Homo sapiens: one gene and its partner. The protein of the gene in region 1 interacts with the protein of each later gene in a pairwise test. Each region holds a gene or a part of one and is shown on either strand. Other genes may lie near its edges.

Evidence for each region.
Region 2: the proteins of GPNMB (region 1) and ITSN2 interact in a two-hybrid assay, tested with the Homo sapiens proteins (one large-scale study listed by BioGRID).

Annotation. Positions count from the first base shown.
Region 1 is NC_000007.14:23,256,737-23,260,568, forward strand, and holds part of GPNMB (transmembrane glycoprotein NMB isoform b precursor), read left to right. Parts: intron 1-155; coding exon 156-329; intron 330-3,243; coding exon 3,244-3,402; intron 3,403-3,719; coding exon 3,720-3,832. UniProt on the Homo sapiens protein: Could be a melanogenic enzyme.
Region 2 is NC_000002.12:24,311,954-24,315,785, reverse strand, and holds part of ITSN2 (intersectin-2), read left to right. Parts: intron 1-561; coding exon 562-654; intron 655-2,262; coding exon 2,263-2,326; intron 2,327-3,410; coding exon 3,411-3,574; intron 3,575-3,832.

The DNA of each region.
Region 1 (3,832 bases):
TATTGGATGGATTCTACATATTAAGTGTTTAGTTGTCTAACTACTTTTAAACTAGTTATGAAAAAAATACGAAAAAGTGTTTAATTCAGTGATGCATGCACATTGGGTTTTCTGAGCCTAGATAACACTCATGGCTGGTTTCTATCTCTGTTTAGAGGCTGGTTTATCTGCTGATCCGTATGTTTACAACTGGACAGCATGGTCAGAGGACAGTGACGGGGAAAATGGCACCGGCCAAAGCCATCATAACGTCTTCCCTGATGGGAAACCTTTTCCTCACCACCCCGGATGGAGAAGATGGAATTTCATCTACGTCTTCCACACACTTGGTTGGCTTTTACAAACCCCTAAGCTTCTTCTTTACCTTTCCTTAAAATTTCAACCTTCTCTTTTCTTACTCTATAATTGAGAATGATAACACAGAGAGTTAATAACAGTCACCCTGCTAACTTTCCTTAGCATGAGTGAACAGTGAGAGATAAAAATGAAATCTTGGTTAACCTTGCCAAATCTCCAGGACACCGAAGAGTTAAAAAGAGAGAAAAACAAAAAGATTAAGCTCTTTTTCAAAAAAACAAAACCACTTAATTTTTTTCTACCTAAAACCATAACAAGAAAAAATGCTAACACTTATTTATTTGAATGGCACATGGAGACCGGGCATGTGGCTCACACTTGTAATCCCAGCACCTTGGAAGGCGGAGGCGGGTGGATCACCTGAAGTCAGGAGTTCAAGACCAGCCTGGCCAACATGGTGAAGTCCCGTCCCTACTAAAAATACAAAAATTAGCCAGGTGTGGTGGTGCGCACCTGTAATCCCAGCTACTCAGGAGGCTGAGGCAGGAGAATCACTTGAATCCGGGAGGTGGAGGTTGCAGTGAGAGGAGATTGAGCCATTGCACTCCAGCCTGGGCAACAGAGTGAGACTCCATCTCGAAAAACAAACAAACAAACAAAAAACAGAATGGCACATTGATGAGCATTCATTGATTGATTCTTTAGTTTTTTTATGTTCTCTAAAGAATTTTTAAGATTTAAAGAAGCATGTGCTATTTATTTGTAGGAAATCCTCAGAAAAGGTACAAATAAAAAATAAAAATTATCCATAATTAATACCAGAGATTATAATTGTTAATTATTATGGTGTTTTCTTTGCTAGTATTTAAGATCATTATTAAGATCACATACACATTTTTGCTTACTATCATTAGCATTTGATGATATGATTTTTTTAATTTTTATACATTGTTTTAATGGCTGCACGATATTTCATTGTGTACAAATAAAATAACTACTGTTCCGCTTTGACCTAGCCCATTCTGTCTTTTTTTAAATTACAAATGGTATTCATTTTGTTGTATTATTGGGGAAATGATTACTTTTAGAAGGAGCAAATTGAGCTTATTATTAATTAGGCTGCTAAATTCTTAGTTTAAAATGTCACTAGGTGCCACCTGGCACTGAGTATTTGAAAATTGCTACCAATCAAGCAGCCTCCAGATTACTAAATATTTCATCTTTCATCACAGATTAGAGAGAGCTCCTCTTCCTTCAATTAACTTATTTACAAATCAGGACAAAATATTAACAATACATACCCATTGAACAGAGTATAAGCTATGTCAAATATTATGCTCATCTATATAAATCAATTGCCTTAAAGCTAACTTATTTTTCACTGCCATTACGACCCCATTAGCCAACTCACCAAACATTTCTTTGACTTGTCACTCTCATGACAGAATTCTGACATTTTGCATGGAGTCACTTATGTTCACTAACACTCGCCGACTCTTTAGCCTAGTAAACATTCCAATAACTTAACCAGATCAAATGTCTGTATTTAAAATCAACTTTCAGCCTAGAACTTGCTCTGTTTGTCTAACAAGACTGCCTTGAATTTCTGTCTTCCACTGAGGTCTCAGAGTTAACTGATATTCTCCCTCAACTAAGTATGGTCTCACCTCTCAGAGCTGAAACTAACATTTTCCTCACGAATAACCCCTGAGAGACATCTCTTCCCCTTATAACTTCTGATGGAACTACCCCTGCATCTCAACGTGAAGGAGGATTCCAAACCACACATCCCTGGAGAGACCAGTGTGTTTTTCTCACACGTTTGACGGTGTGATACACGGGGTCTTGAAACAACCCGGTCTCAAAAGCATGCAACCTAAGATACCCAGTCAGTGACAGGTCTAAACCAGGCCCCCTGGCAGGATTAGAAAAGTTCTTGATTTGGGAATGATAGTAAGAGGAGTTACAGAGTTTTAAAATTTGTTTAAATGTCCTTGAGCCCTGAAGGAGAGGAATTACTTCCACCTGTTAGCTAGCAGCAGGGAGGGTTGGACAAAGAAAAGGAATGACTCAGGGGTGTCCTAGGAAAGTGCCTGTGGAACCACCCCATTCTGTTTTATGTCTGCCATCCTCTATTTCATCACTTACGGGATTTTTATTTTTATTTTTTTGAGACAGAGTCTCGCTCTGTCACCAGGCTGGAGTGCAGTGGTGTGATCTCAGCTCACTGGAATCCCCGCTCCGGGTTTAACCAATTCGTCTGCCTCAGCCTCCCGAGTAGCTTGGATTACAGGCTCGTACCACCACACCTAGCTAATTTTTTGTATTTTAGTAGAGATGGAGTTTCACCATGTTGGCCAGGATGGTCTCCATCTCCTGACCTCGTGATCCGCCTGCCTCGGCCTCCCAAAATGCTGGGATTACAGGCATGAGCTACCGCGCCCAGCCACTTGCTGTATTTTTATATACAAATACTATTAGGAGATGGAGGATTCCAGTCCCCTTTTAAAAATCCACTTAATAATATAGCGGAAATAGTAACAAAAATAAGGTAGGTTATTGGATAAATAATTTTTTTAACTCTTCTGGACACCTCATCATTATATTAAATGTATTTTCTATGGGGAAAACATGTATTTCAAGTGCCAAATTACTTAGCACAAACAGCATTTATTTGTAAACTAAGGGCTAACTGTTTTATGCCACTAAACAGCTTTTTAAATTTTAACCAACTGTATACAATTACATGTATACAACTGTGGGTTTGTTTTATAAGATTTTACATTAAAATGAGCACCATCTCCCTTTCTGAAGCAGCACCACAGGCCCATCCTATTTTCCCTCCTCAGAGCAATCTATAAATGGTGGTAGCTAGTCTTTAAGGAACAGCTTCCTATAATGATGATATAATGCAGCCAATAACTAAAAATTTCCATCCTCCCAAAGGTCAGTATTTCCAGAAATTGGGACGATGTTCAGTGAGAGTTTCTGTGAACACAGCCAATGTGACACTTGGGCCTCAACTCATGGAAGTGACTGTCTACAGAAGACATGGACGGGCATATGTTCCCATCGCACAAGTGAAAGATGTGTACGTGGTAACAGGTGAGTGGTGTGAACTCTAACTGAGGATGAGGCACTTCATTCTGTTGACGTCAATGGGTTAAAAAAGAGGTAAGGCCAAGTGTTCGGGGTTAGGTTACAATGCATCTGGCCCACCTAAGCTTGTGTATTTAATTAGTTGTAGTTCATCTGTTTTCCAGAATAGCTTAGGGAAACCCCAGAAAACTTGCATGTGAAAAGGAAAATAATGCTAAATTATCCCTCATTTTAATATTTCAACCTAAAAGCATCGTCGAAGCCCTCCACTTACAATCAAGCAATCATGCATTCTTTATTTCTTTGGGGGATGTATCTTTTAGATCAGATTCCTGTGTTTGTGACTATGTTCCAGAAGAACGATCGAAATTCATCCGACGAAACCTTCCTCAAAGATCTCCCCATTATGTTTGATGTCCTGATTCATGATCCTAGC
Region 2 (3,832 bases), on another chromosome or scaffold:
GCAGGAGAGAGAGAAGCAGCAAGGGGGGAAGTGCCACACTTTAAAACCATCAGCTATTGTGAGGAACTCACTCATTATCACAAAAACAACAAGGGAGAAATCAACTCCCATGATCCAGTCATCTCCCACCAGGCCCCTCCTCTGACACGTGGGGATTACAGTTCGAAATGAGGTTCTGGTGGGGACACAGGGCTAAACTATGGCAGTATATAGTTCTGCTTAGGATTTTTCACAGGTGAATACTGTAAGTACTGTTGTTTTCTAGAGCATGAATTCCTTGAGGGTGGGAATATTTTCTTCATCTTTTTATTGCCAGTATTTAGCTTGATGCCCATTTCCAGTGAGTGTGATATAGCACTTGTTCAATAGACGTTAATTGAGCCAATGAGTGAAAAGCCTTAGGGCTGTGCTATGTATGGTTATGATAGAGCTCTACTCTTTGTGTCACTCAAATATTAAATACTGTCATACAATGAACACTTGTGATTTCTATTTACATTTTAGAATTGTATTTTAAGCATTCTCATGTATACACTATAGTTTCTTCCACTTATGTTTCAGGAGGGCCAAACATGTGGGCTATTACCTCTGAAGAACGTACTAAGCATGACAGGCAGTTTGATAACCTCAAACCTTCAGGAGGTTACATAACAGGTTTGTATTTATAATTAGTTTTATTAGTGAATTATGGTCCTTATGTGATATCTAAGAATTAGTTTTAATTTGACTGCCATCAAATTTGTGTTAATAAACGATAAAATTCATATCAATCAGAATTCTAGAAATTAAAGAAATGCTAACTTTATTTTTCCTGGAACTGTCTTAATTTGTTGTTTTAAATTTGGGATATGGAAGATTTTTCCTGAATCCTAAATGATAGTCAAGAATTTCTGTGTAATTGTCTGGTTTCACATTTTAACATTATATCTAGAAAGTTTTCAGTTTATTTCTTAGATTCATTTCATGGAAAATCTAGACTTTTTTTTTCTGGAATCTGTTTTCCTAATGCTAGCCCTCTGTCTTTGAGGCTACACCAAGCACTGATTGTTGATGCTAGCCCTTGTTTTGCAGAAAGACCACCAGAGCCAAAATGGGATTAATTTAGGTGTGCCTTTGAAATTTTTTTCTATTAATTAAACTTTTTTCTGTGCCAAAGTAGCTTAGTGCTTTACATACAATAATAGTAACTATGAGAACAATGATATTTATTGAATTTTTACTATATACCAGATGCTATGCTAAGTGCATTATTTTATTTAACCTTTACAACAACCCTGTAAAGTAGGCACTGTTGTTGTCTATATTTACAAATAGTGAAACTGAGACTAAGAGACGTTATGTAACTGCCTAAGGTTACAAAGATGGTTAGTGTTAATCTGGGCTTTGAAACCATTTGGGCTGATTTTGGAATCCATCTACTTAACCATGTTATTTGTACTGCTATGATAGTAATTACCTTACCTGGTATCAGGATTTGATTACCCTGCTTACAGGTTAATAACTTTGTCCATTACGGGTGGAAGACCCAAGATTCCTGAGTCAGAGACAAAGAACCTTATGACTAACAGCATAACTAGCAAAATGAGCATTGGCATCTATCTTTCTGTTTCCTTTAGTGTTCCCTAAGTCCCACAGAGACAATGCAGAGAGCCCAGGAGAATAGTACACATGCTATGATTGTGTTACAGGAGAGGAACACTGAATTTGGGGAACCCACCCTTTTGTAGCAAGCAGTAAAGCAAGTTTGTCCCTTGTCTCAGTGGGAAACGTTACCGGATTCGTTAAGATTGCTCATTACAAACCCAATTCTGAGAAGTGACCCAGGCAGAGAGCAATTAGGGTCTTACATTATTGGTATACAGAGCAAGACACATAGGAGTGTGAAGAAACTCATGGAGGACTCTCTCTCCTAACACCTGGTACTTTTTATATTGAAACTCTTTTAGGGAATAGTGTTTTTAAATATAAATTTTACTAAGTGGAAGTATTTTTAAGGAAGACCCCAATTGTGGAAAAACTGAGATGAATCATCTTTCATCACTGATTAATATACAATAGAAGTGCAGATGTGACTTTTGTTTTAAAATATCTGTCTTATTAAAGTTATGTAAATAATTTTTATGTGTTTCTATTTCACTTATTCTTTAATGATTGGTATTAAAATTATAATAAATCATTAACATATACCCATTATTATTCAGAAGCATTGGAATAATTTCATTTACTAATGTGCTGCTTGGGTTTTGTTTTTATTACCTCCAGGTGATCAAGCACGTAATTTTTTCCTACAATCAGGTCTGCCGGCCCCTGTTTTAGCTGAAATATGGTAAAGTGTTTTGTAGATGAACCTAATTTTCTGATAGTATTTTGTTTTTTTGTAATATAGTGTTAACATAAAATTGTTTTTAGTTGCATTCTATTGGTTATTAAGAATATTTCTGCCAGCACTTTGGGAGTCTGAGGTAGGAGGATTGCTTGAGGCCAGGCTGGGCAACATAGTGAGAACCCTGTCTCTACAGAAAATTAAAAAAAAAATTAGCTGGGTGTGGTGGCCACACCTCTAGTCCCAGCTACTCAGGGAGGCCAAGATGGAAGGATTGCTTGAGCCCAGGAATTCAGTGCTGCAGTGAACTATGATTGTGTCACTGCACCCTAGCCTGGATGACAGAATGAGACTCTCTTTAGAAAAAAAAAAAAAAAAAAGGTATTTCTTCAGTTTTTTGGAAAATAAATTTTATTGAGCAAATTATTGAAAATAATTCAGGTTTAGTTCTCTAGGACAAATTTCTAATTTCATTAGAATTTTCTAAGGAAAGATATATACATTATCATTGAGAAAAATTTCCTTATAATTTGGCAGAATCTCAAAATCCTCTTTCTGTTATTTTGTAGTTTCATTTATTTCATAATCTATAAACCCCAAATTAGTCCTCGCTTCCCCTGCTCCTTCTTTAAAGAAACTATTCTCTATAATATCTGTTTTTTTAAAAACGTTTACAATAAGTAACAACCCCTGTCCCATCTTTCCACTTGGAATATTCTCATGCCTGGTAGAGTACGAGGCACATAGCAAGTATTCAGTAAATATTTGGACAGATGAATAAATTAAATTTAGAAGTATTATAATCTTGAATTTTTTTCTACCTAAACTGGTGGAATTCAGCCCAAAGGTCTCTAGATTCTGTTTTGACAGGCAGTGTTTTATTAGTTATTATCTCTGGTCAGTATTTCTTAAAGTGTAGGTTTTATCTTTTTGTTATTATATATTTTACATGTTAGATATTTTAAATTTAGTGATGATGTACACGTGAATGCCATATCATCATTTTTACTTTGTCAATCCCCAAAATAACGTTAGTTTTCCCACCACCACACCACATAGCAATCTACCTACCTCATGCTCCTTTTAGGGCTTTATCAGACCTAAACAAGGATGGGAAGATGGATCAGCAAGAGTTCTCCATAGCTATGAAACTCATCAAACTGAAGCTTCAAGGCCAACAGTTGCCTGTGGTTCTCCCTCCTATTATGAAGCAACCCCCTATGTTTTCTCCATTAATTTCTGCTCGTTTTGGTAAGTATGTATTAATTTAAATACCTGTATTTGCTACTTAAACTTTATCCCTAGGCATATTTGAGTATTAGAAAAGGATTTGTTAGCACAAAATGACAGTCCCCAGATTCCAAGTTAATTTTCATGTTAGAGATAATAAATATTAAATTCACTGTCACAGGTAGGGGATCCATGTGTTCTGGTTTTCTAGGGACAGTTCTGATTTATGCCTTTTGTCCTGGCATCTGGTCCAGTTAGTGTCTCCTTTTACAACTCCTA